2 separate regions of the Homo sapiens genome follow, and region 1 is linked to region 2. Evidence: fine-mapped expression QTL. Tissue or cell type: testis. Region 2 holds a variant in brackets; the other region holds the start of a gene. All regions are shown on one strand. Distances are from middle to middle.

Region 1 (5,399 bases), 150 kb before region 2:
GATAGTGTAAGTCCTCCAACTTTGTGTTTTTACTTCAACACTGTGTTGGCTGTTCTAGGTCTTTTGCCTTTTAATACACACTTTAGAATTCATTTGTCAATAGCTAGAAACTAGCTTCCTGGATTTATAGGTTGAGTTATGCACAATTTATACCATAATATCAAGTCTGATAATCCATGAAAACAAAATATTTCATTTAATTAGATCTTCTCTTTTATTCATCAAAGTTTTGTAGTTTTTTGCATATAAACACCTTCCATTTCTGTTAGATTCATACCTAAGTGTTTCACCTTCTTTAATGCCATTGTAATTTTTTTGTTATCCTTCCTTACTATTTTCAGTCATTTTTTCCCTGGGGGACTTAAGTAGACAATCATGCTATCTATAAATAAAAAGAGCTGTATTTTTTTTTTGAAGTCTACGTACTTTTTTTTAGCTGAAATAAACACTTAAAATTGTAATTCTTATTTTTCATTGAATTAAAATATAGATTCTTGCTTTTGCCCAGATTTTTATTGAGATTTGTTGAGGGCAATAAAATATTCAATAATATGTATAATTAAAGCTTATACCAACATAACGGTTATAAATCCTACTGAAATTAATATTGATCTGTCTTTAACGTAAATTATCTTTAAGCAATTATTTATTTGGACTATGTCTTTAAAGTAATTTCTAATAAAAAAGAAATGTTATAAAGCATTGGTGATTTTTAAATTTTGATTTAGACAGAAAGAAAAATATATATTTTCTGCCAGATGACTTTTTTATTATTTTTTCTTGCACTTATATTACTACATCAATTATATTGCTGATTGCTATATTTTAATACTTTTTCACAATCATATTAAGTAGAATTACATAGACTAACCCGTGAGTCACACTCGCAGTGTTTACTTTTTGTCTTATACCACTAACAATGACTGACTAAATTTTGACTATATCTGGAGTTAGAAAAATAAACCTTTCTTCTGTTTTCATAAGTATCAGATTGCTAAGTTTTATTATTCAAGTTCTGTTCTCAAAAGCTGCTGTATGAGATATTGCATACCTGCCAGAATTTGAAGAGACAAAAATGTAAAGGAACAATGGCAAGATCAGAGAAGCTATTCTACAAACAGGAACTTTTAAATAGCAGCCTTTCTTGAATCTTATCTTTATGCTTTATGGCAATTTATAAAAGATGAAGGCTTATGAGAACTTATTTAATTTGCTTGTCCTATTCTTTGTCTAAAGAGTTCCTTGATAATTTGACACATCAGATGCAAATAAAGAGATAAAGAGATTGAAATAAGAATACAGGTGCCACACATTTTCCATTTAAGTCCAATGTCTGCTTTGCAAAATGTGACATGCTGTATTTTTATCCAGATAGATAATTGACATCTCTAGGAAGAAAGAAATACAAGAATTATGTTTCTTGGATGATTTTCTTCTAGTCCCTTAATCCTGATAAGAAAAAAAAAATCATGACTATGTTATAATGTAATATATAGTATCAATAACTAAAAACCATTATACAAATATAATATTAATATAAAACTGTAACTTTATTATACGGTATATTATTACTAATAGTATTCATGATAAAATTAGGCCGGGCGTGGTGGCTCATGCCTGTAATCCCAGCACATTGGGAGGCCGAGGAGGGTGGATCACCTGAGGTCAGGAGTTCAAGACCAGCCTGATCAACATGGAGAAACCCTGTCTCTACTCAAAATACAAAATTAGCCAGGTGTGGTTGCACAAGCCTGTAATCCCAGCTACTGGGGAGGGTGAGGCAAGAGAATCACTTGAACCTGGGAGGTGGAGGTTGCAGTGAACCAAGATCATTCCATTGCACTCTAGCCTGGGAAACAAGAGCAAAACTATCTCAAAAACAAACAAACAAAAATTAATAGTAACTATTAACTACTAATACACCAAATACAGTATTTTATGAATAACTCGATGCTTTGTTGCATTCTTATACTCTAAACTAAGAAAATTGAAATAAGATATGAGAAGAGTGCTTTTATTTTCAACCTAACTCTTCTAAGCTGGTATACAAGAGGGGTGCACCCATTTCCCCACAATTCTTATGGACTCAACTTACGGTGTAACCAAAGAGGGTAGATTTTACACCACAGATCCTACTCCTCCACGCCTGGAGTTCTCATGGGAGCCTTCAGTGTCAGACTTTTGCCATTACTGTTCTCACTTTTCCTGCCTAGCAGTGTTCTAGAATCCTGTATGATTCTTATTCTCTTGGAGTTTTGGGACATCAGAAATTCATGATCCTTCTTTTAAGAGCTGCATGGATTTGGAGTCTTATCCTCACTAGAAGAGAGGAATGCACCCAATGGAAAAGAGGAGAGCAACCAAAGTCTAAGCTAAGAGCATAGTTTCATGTGAGTGGGTGTGGTGTATGTGTGTGTATGGGTATGGTGTGTATGGGCCCTACAATTCTAGCATTATACACTAAATAGTCATTTGTGTGTATCACAGGCAATCAAATTATGGTTCATTAAAAAAATCTCCTCTGTGAAACCTAATTTGAAATTAGCAACTGCTAGGTTATAAAAGTAATTGTTCAAATTCTTTTGTGGTGCAGGTGGTGGGGTTGATCACTTTGAATACCCATGGCAGTTCATTTTCTGAGAATATAGACATAATCTTTCCCTCTAGTTCAGGAAGGGGGAAGAGCTTTGGCTGTGTTTGACAAGTTATAAACATGTTATCATATTTCATAACATGGAAGTAATAAAGAGTTATATAATTACATAAGCAGGATGCCAAATATTGAATTTTTGAAAATAGGGCAAATGCGACATGAAACATAAAATCATAAATTTGTAAACATGCAATTCACACAAAATTTTAAAATAAAATATAGAAAAATCCCTGCTCACAATGATACATTTTCTTACACATTTATTTTCCTTTTTTGTAATCACTAACAGCTGAACCTTGTTCATATGCTTCTGCATCTTTTATTTACACATAACTAAAAAAAGTGCTATCATTTAATCTCAGAATTTTTATGTTACAATGACCTAAAACCATCCCATGAATTCTATAAACTCTTTAACACTTTCTCTCTTCCATGACTCTCTTTCAGAAAGTATTTCCTCTGGCATTCATAGTTTTTGTGGACACACCTGATACCTGAAAAAAACAATCTGAGTGAGTTTAACTCATTAATTACTCAGAGTCCTCTCTATTCCCAAAGTATTCCGTCTCCCAAGCAAGACCTTATGTAGCTGTACTGTTTCTCTCCTTCCTCTCAATACCTACTCTTTTGCCTCTTCCAATATGCAATCTGTTCAACATGTTTGATATATGTCCTTGTGTGTCTATATGTGAAAATGCACGTGTTCAAGTTTTTTTTTTTTGGATTTTATAAACTGAATCAATGTTTTCTGTCTTGTTTAATGCTGTTTTTAAAAACGTATCTCTTTACAAAAAATGTTTACTACATTTATCAATGTTACTCTATTACCTTAAAATTTATTTTTTTCTAACTGCATCACGCATTTCACAGTATGCATTAACTATAATTCTTTTACATATCCTCTTAGGAAAATCTAGGCTGTAACCAGCTCCCCGTTACCCTCAATGATATCATGGTGAATATCTTAGTGCATGATGCTTCATGAATTTATGTGAAAGCTTCTCTGGGTTTACTCAGGTAGGCTAGGAAATTAGACAAAAACATACTTAATTTTTGTCAGAAAGTCTAGATTGTTTTTGTTCTAAAGAGCCCCTTTTCCTATTACAATGTTCTTTTTTTAAGCAATCTTTGGAACTTTGAAAAATTGTTTTAAAGCTTTTTGCATGTGTGTTTCTCAAATTATGTTTATGCTTAAATATGGAAGACATTGATTAAATAGTGGGTATATAATGTGGAGAAATTAAATTTTGGAGAAAGATCACAGTTTAAAACAGGTCTATGTTTTACAGAAGTGCAATTGCAGCTTGGAGTGAGTATTACCAGCTCCCCTGAGCATGCATAAGCCATGGGCATGCATAAGCCACCTTTCAAAGAGGTTGCAAGTGCAGAAGATTCCATTGAAGTCTGGATGTTTCATAATACACAAATAACTATTTTATCCAAACTTTTTCATGTGCTGGTCTTATATTAACTCCTGCCCCAGATGTGGCATTTTTTATTTCTCAGCTTGGTAATTCTCTTCTTTATTATTTAAGACATAGCATTTTATACTTTTAAAAATGAGAAGGCATCTAGCTTTAAGTGCAACACTTATTTACAATCGGAATACGCACCATGAATCATTTATGCATTTTCTTACTGCTGTACCTCTTCCTGTTCCAAAACTGCTTTGACAAAATTATGAGGTATGTTAGATGGCTTCAGTCATCTTTAATTCTACTATTCTGACTACTTCTCTATTATTCTTGTTATCACTTTTACTTCCTGTCTTTATCCCTAAGAGTGGCTGCTTCCTGATAACTTGTTGCCCATGCTGAGTATCTCCAGTGCTGAACACCAGTTTTGCCAGCAACCTCGTATCTCCTGAAGGGTCTCTTTCAGAGACTATGTCCTTGACTACAAAATCGCTTTCACTTCAATACTGTCTTTATTCCTCCCACTAAGAAAATAAGATACAGATAGCAACATATTTGGGGTTCAACTTGTGACTGAGCCAAACTTATACATTTTGAAATTGGTTTAAAAAGAAAGTTCAGAAAGTAAATATGTTTCATGTGATAAGAAATAATTGCCATAAAATATTTCAAATAAAATGATATGTAAATGGGATCAACTGCAGTTTTCTTCACAATGTCAGAATAGTAAGACACTTGTGTATATTAATTTTTGAGTGTCTAATGTGAGTGGGGTTGAGAATTGTGACAAAGATTTTGCAGTCTTGGTGAGGTCCCAAAGGCAGCAAAATATAGAGTCATATGTTGTGTTTGAAATAGAATTCTTGTAGTGGGAGCCTGATCTCGTATAGAATGGTCCCCCATTGAGCTGCAGGTGGGCCACCATCACTGCAGTTGGCCAAAGGATGACAAGCAGAGCTCTAAGATTATCTGCTTCAAGTTCTTCTTACACATACTCATGTTAAAACTCACTTACATGTCTTTTCTACTATGACTTGGAAAGCAAAATATATGTTCTGTCTTACCTTGAATTGATCTGTATATTGTACATTGATTACATAAGAGCAGCAACCATTCTTCGATTGTCCAAATTATTCAATTTAAAGTGATTGGTAGGTAGTCAGTGAGTGTTGACATATAGCGATTAGATATATAGATTAATTACATCAGATCCATTTGCATCGTCAGAGGGGTGATCTGTTTTTATTTTTAGTAACATGCTTTTGAGCAAAAAAATGGTGTATTAAGTAGAAGAATGATCAAATAGAAAAAATGCACTGTTTAAGTGAGAT
Region 2 (5,399 bases):
TTCACATCTAACAAGCAGCTTTTTAAATAATAGACTTTAGGTTGATTCTGTGTCTTTGCTATTGTGAATAGTACTACAATGAACATATGTGTGCATGTGTCTTTATAATAGAATGATTGATATTCATTTGGACATATACTCAGTAATAGGATTGTTGGGTTAAATGGTATGTGTGGTTCTATACAACATGGATACTATGAAGTCATAAAAAAGAACAAGATCATGCCCTTTACAGGGACATAGAGGGAGCTGGAGGAAATTATCCTTAGCAAACCAATGCAGGAACAAAAATCCAAATACCGCATGTTCTCAGTTCTAAGTGCTAGCTAAATGAAGAGAACACATAAACACATAGACGTTAAAAATACACGCTGTGGCCTTTTGGAGGGTGGAGGGTGGGAGGAGGGAGAGGATCAGGAAGAATAACTAATGGGTACTAGGCTTAAGATCTGGGTGATGAAGTAATCTATACAGCAAACCCCTATAACAAAAGTTTATCTTTGCAACAAACCTGTACTTGTACCCCTGAACTTAAAAGTTAAAAATAAAATAAAATAAAATGAATATATACAACAATAAAAAATAAATAAAAATAGATTTTATTTTTAAAACACTTTTACAGTTAGGGAAAAGTTGAAATGGTAGTATAAAAATGTCCTATATACTCTCTCACTCAGTTCCCCCTATTATTACTATCTTATATGACTATGGTGCATTTGTTATGATGAATGAACCAATATTGGTGCATTAGCATTAACTAAACTCTATAGTTCATGTCATTTTTATTGAAACATATCAAGGGTACAGACTATTGATGTTGACCTTGATTTGAAGTTGAATTTACCAAGTTTCTCCAACATAAAGTTACTCTCTCCTCTACCTTTTCATACTGTACTCTTTGGAAGAGAGCTACTGTCAAAGCCCATGCTTAAAGAGTGGAATATTTTCTTCCTCCTTATTCAGATAAGGATATCTACATAAGCTGTTTGGAATTCTTATGCATGGGATATTTGTCTCTTCTTCCTAATTTAGTTATATATTTAATAAGAAAAAAGGAATATAGAGATTATAATACAAATTTCAAAAGTACAATCAAAAAGTAGAATAATAAAACCAAAAGTTGGTTCTTTGAAAAAAGTCAATAAAATTGCAAAAATTTAGCTATACTGATCAAGAAAGTGGAACAAGACTTAATCACTAAACTCAGACATGAAAGTAACAATATTATGTCAAACCTTAAAAAAAAATTATAAGAAAAAACTATGAAAATTATACACTACAAATTAGATATCCATGAAGAAATTGACAAATTCCTAGAAACACAGATTACAAAACTGACTCAAGAAGAAATACAAAATCTGAATAGACATTTAACAAATAGAGATTGAATGTGTCATTTAAAAAAAACTTCAAGTAAGAAAATCTCACAACCAGATGGTTTCAACAGTGAATTCTATCAAATATTTAAAGAAAACTAATGCCAATCTTTTACAAACCCTTCTAGTAATCAGAAGGTGAAACACTTTCTAAATCATTCTATGAGATCAGCATTATGCTAGTACCGAAGATAGAGACTGACATCATAACAAATGAATACTATAGGCCAATATCCTTTATAACAATTGACACGAAAATTATTGGCAAATAGCAGCAAACAGAATTTAGCAGCATATTAAAAGGGCAATTCACTATGACCAAGTGGGATTTATTCTAGGAATGCAAGAGTTGTTTAACATTTAAAAAATACAAAAACACTAAGGGCAAGACACCAAAATAAAATAATAAAAACAACAACAAAAATATGTACATCTCAATTTATGGAGTAAGATTATTAGAAGAAAATTAAACCTCTTTTGTAATCGAAAGACTCAAAAACTAGAAATAGAGGAAATTTCCTCAACATAATACAGGGCACTTATTAAAAAAATAAACACTCTAGTCTACTCAATGATGAAAGCTTTCATCCTCAGAGCAGGAACAAGATGAGGATATCCACTTTAACCACTTCTATTCAACATTTACTTGATATTCAAGCCAGAACAATTAAAGAAAAATACAAATAAAAGATATACAATTAAAAGAAAGTAGTATAATTAACTCTATTCACTGTTGTATAATTATATAATATTCCAAAGAATGCACAAACATACATACACACAAAAACCTTAGAGTTAATACATTCAGCACATTTACAGT[G/A]TACAATGTAAATACACAAAATCAACAGTATTGCTATAGACTAGCAACAAATAACCTAAAAAAGAAACAAAAAATTTTCATTTACAATAACATCAGAATGCGTATATATAATTTAATGTTATTATACACGTCTTTCACCTTCTTCATTATATATATTATTAAGCTTTTACATATATGTGTGTGTATATATATATATATAAAATGAAGGAGAAAGATGTGTATGCTGACAACTAAAAACCACTGTTGAAATAAATTAAGAACCTACATAATGAAAAATATCTTGCATTTATTAATATAAATAATTAATATTAAGATGAAAATACTCCCCAAAGTGATCTACATATTCAGTGCAAACCCTGTCAAAATCCCAATGGTTTTTGTTTTCAGAAACGGTAAAGTCAATTCTACAATTCATATGAGATTGCAAGGTACCCTGAGTAGCCAAAATGATTTTGAAAAAGAACACATTTGGAGGATGAACACTTTTCAATTTCCAAACCTTCTACAAATCTCAAGTAATTCAAACAGTGGAACTGGCACAAGGATAGGCATATTTATCAGTGAAATATAATTGCGAGTCGAGAAATAAATGTATGCATCTGTGGTCAGTTGATTTGTAATAAGGGTGCCAAGACCATTCACTAGGAAAAGAACACATTAACACATGATGCTGAGACAACTGGATATCCACATTTTGTGTATTTATCTTGTATATTGTACCTGTGCTGACTATGTTAACTCGAAGATTGTGTGTATGTGTGTGTGTGTTTGTGTGTATTCATGGGAATGTTGTGTTTTTAAAATTATGAAAACTATGAATGGAGATAGTTCTGCTATTTCCTTTTTAATTGTATAGCTTTTACTTGTTTTTGGTTATCCAGTTGCATCAGCATCATTCGTTCATGTGTTCTTTTCCTATTGAATGGTCTTGTCATCCTCATTAAAAGTCAATTTATCAAAGATACATGAGTTTATAAATCTGTCAGTTGACAGACTGAAGTTTATGAATCCAGTTGAAACAACTGGATATGCAAAAGAATGAAATTGGATCCATACATTAAACCAAGTACAAAAATAAACTCAAAGTAGATAAAGACCTAAATGTGAGTTAAAACTAGAGAACTATTAAAATAAAACACAGGGATCCATTTCATGACCTTAGAATTGGCGATGTTTCTTTGAGTATAATGCCACAAGTAAAAGTAACTAAAGAAATAATAAATTGGACTTTATCAAAATTAACTTTCATGCATCAAAGAAAAATATCAAGCGAGTGGCATTAATGATTTTGAAAACATAATGTTGATTGCTGATAGCAGGTTGATTAAGAATGTATGTTGTTGAGAAACAGTGAAAAGTACACCTATGTCTAGTCACAAATAAGTTTCAAGTGCTATGATGTTTATTTTAAAATGTATAAACATTTCAAATTTTAAAACAAACATACTTTTAAAACAAATATTATAGCACTTGAAATTATTTATGATTAAATATAGGTGTATTATCAAACAACAGCAAAAGAAAAACAGACTTAGAGAAACTACTCCAAAATTTCTCAATAATGTTTTCTCCAGAAGAGAAAGATATTTGGTTGCAGATATTTGGAAATGCTCAAATATGCTTCTCATTGTTTTCCATAAAATAAATAACAATTTTAAAGGTAAATATAGTATAGTTTGTGGGTGTCTCTCATCTTATCTTTGCATTTTTCTGTATTTTAAATATCTCCAAATTAGATGGATATGTTAATGAGAAAAAAAGTCTATATTAAAAATAATTCTATTTTCACTACAAAAATATGTGAACATAAAAATTATAAGTATACTCATATACTATACCTTTTTCAAGTAAATATTTTCTTAATATTTTACCAATACTAATTAAAGGTGGGTATATTATATATAATTTATAAGTATTATAGACACCTCTAAGTTTGCTAAATGTAATTAGCACAATAATATATGAGCAATATTTCAAATAATTAATAAGTTCTACCTTTGTTTTTAGTTATCTAAAATTATATGTTTACCATGCTTGTGAAGTAGGATATTTCCCTGACCCCTTCTTGGGACTCACTACAGGGTTGCCTCATTTACTCAGCGTGACAGTGTAAACTCCTTGTGGGAGGGAGCATGTAAGCAAACAAGTGCAGGAACTGGAGTGAATGACCACTGGAACCTGCCAGCTGCTTCGGTGCCAGGGGGATCAAACCCCACTCACTCTTACCTGATGCCTTCCACCCCTTCCAGGAGGGACCACGCAGGTGAGTAGGTGTAGGAACCAGAGCGAGTGCTTTTCGGTGCTGGCAGGAACAAACTCAGTTTACTCAGCTTGCCATGCTCAAATCCCTTGTGGGAGGGAGCACAAGTAGGGGATCCCACTGGCCTGTTTTGGGTGCTGGCAGGAGCAAACTCCATGTAGGCCCTATGGTAGCATCCAGGTCAGGGTGCCTGTGATGCCCAATGCCCCAAAGGGTGCGTTACAGTGCTCTTTTAGCTCTGCCATCCACTGATGGCTTAAGTGTTAACAGCTCAGTGTGCCCTTTGCCTTTTTGTGTGATGCAGCTGCCCTCTGCCAATGAGGGCAAAGGACCAGAGTGACAGCCTTTTGTATCTGCATTTGTGACTCCTGAGCTCTTGTCTGGCATCCAGGAAAAATGAAGTCATATTAATAAGTTGAAGGATGGTAAATGTGGGGGATTTTATTGCTGCTGAAAGTGGTTCTCAGTGGGAAGGGAAGCTGAAAAGGGGATGAGGTGGGAAGGTATTCTTCCCCTGATGTCTGGTCATCTCCAGCTGGATTCTTCTCAGAAGTTATGCCATTAAGCTGTCCCTCTGAAATCAAGCTGTTTATCTCTGGCATCCAGCTGTAGTCCCATCTACTGGCTGAATCTGGGGTTTTTATAGGCACAGGATGTGGTGGGGTATGGTCATGGGTGGTTTAGAAAAAGGCAACATTTGAGTGAGAAGACAGGAATATAAGTTCTCAATTTGGGCAGTGGTTTTAGGCTCTTCAGCTTGAGGGTGGAGTTTCATTGGAGACCCACTCTTTTTTGCCTAGAAAAAAAATTTTCTTCCCCCTGTCCCTATCACAAGGAGAAATTGATGTTGTTTAGTGTTTTCTAGCTTGCTTACTGGTTAAATTTGCATGAGAATCTTGAAACTGGGTATTCCATGGATTTTCTTATTCAATATTTTTCTTTG

Direction of the effects. Positions count from the first base shown, and alleles are read on the strand shown. Sizes are in standard deviations (SD) of each study's normalised expression.
For the expression in testis of the gene that starts at base 2,290 in region 1, allele A in region 2 goes with a lower level than allele G (small effect, 0.32 SD a copy in GTEx).

Evidence for each region. PIP is the estimated chance that this variant, and not a neighbour inherited with it, causes the effect.
Region 1: LINC02220 starts here. The variant in region 2 is the best candidate, but not a certain one, in a credible set for the expression of LINC02220 in testis (GTEx, PIP 0.57).

The regions. Positions count from the first base shown.
Region 1 is chr5:13,029,777-13,035,175 of GRCh38, reverse strand. LINC02220 (long intergenic non-protein coding RNA 2220) reads left to right here and starts at 2,290. Exons shown (of 5, transcript NR_147005.1): 1 at 2,290-2,390; 2 at 3,101-3,165.
Region 2 is chr5:12,876,454-12,881,852 of GRCh38, reverse strand. It overlaps LINC02220 (long intergenic non-protein coding RNA 2220), which reads left to right. Exons shown (of 5, transcript NR_147005.1): 5 at 4,278-4,381. Among named protein-coding and RNA genes, the nearest start is that of LINC02220, 150 kb to the left of the region's middle. The variant G/A (reference allele first, on the strand shown) is at 2,197.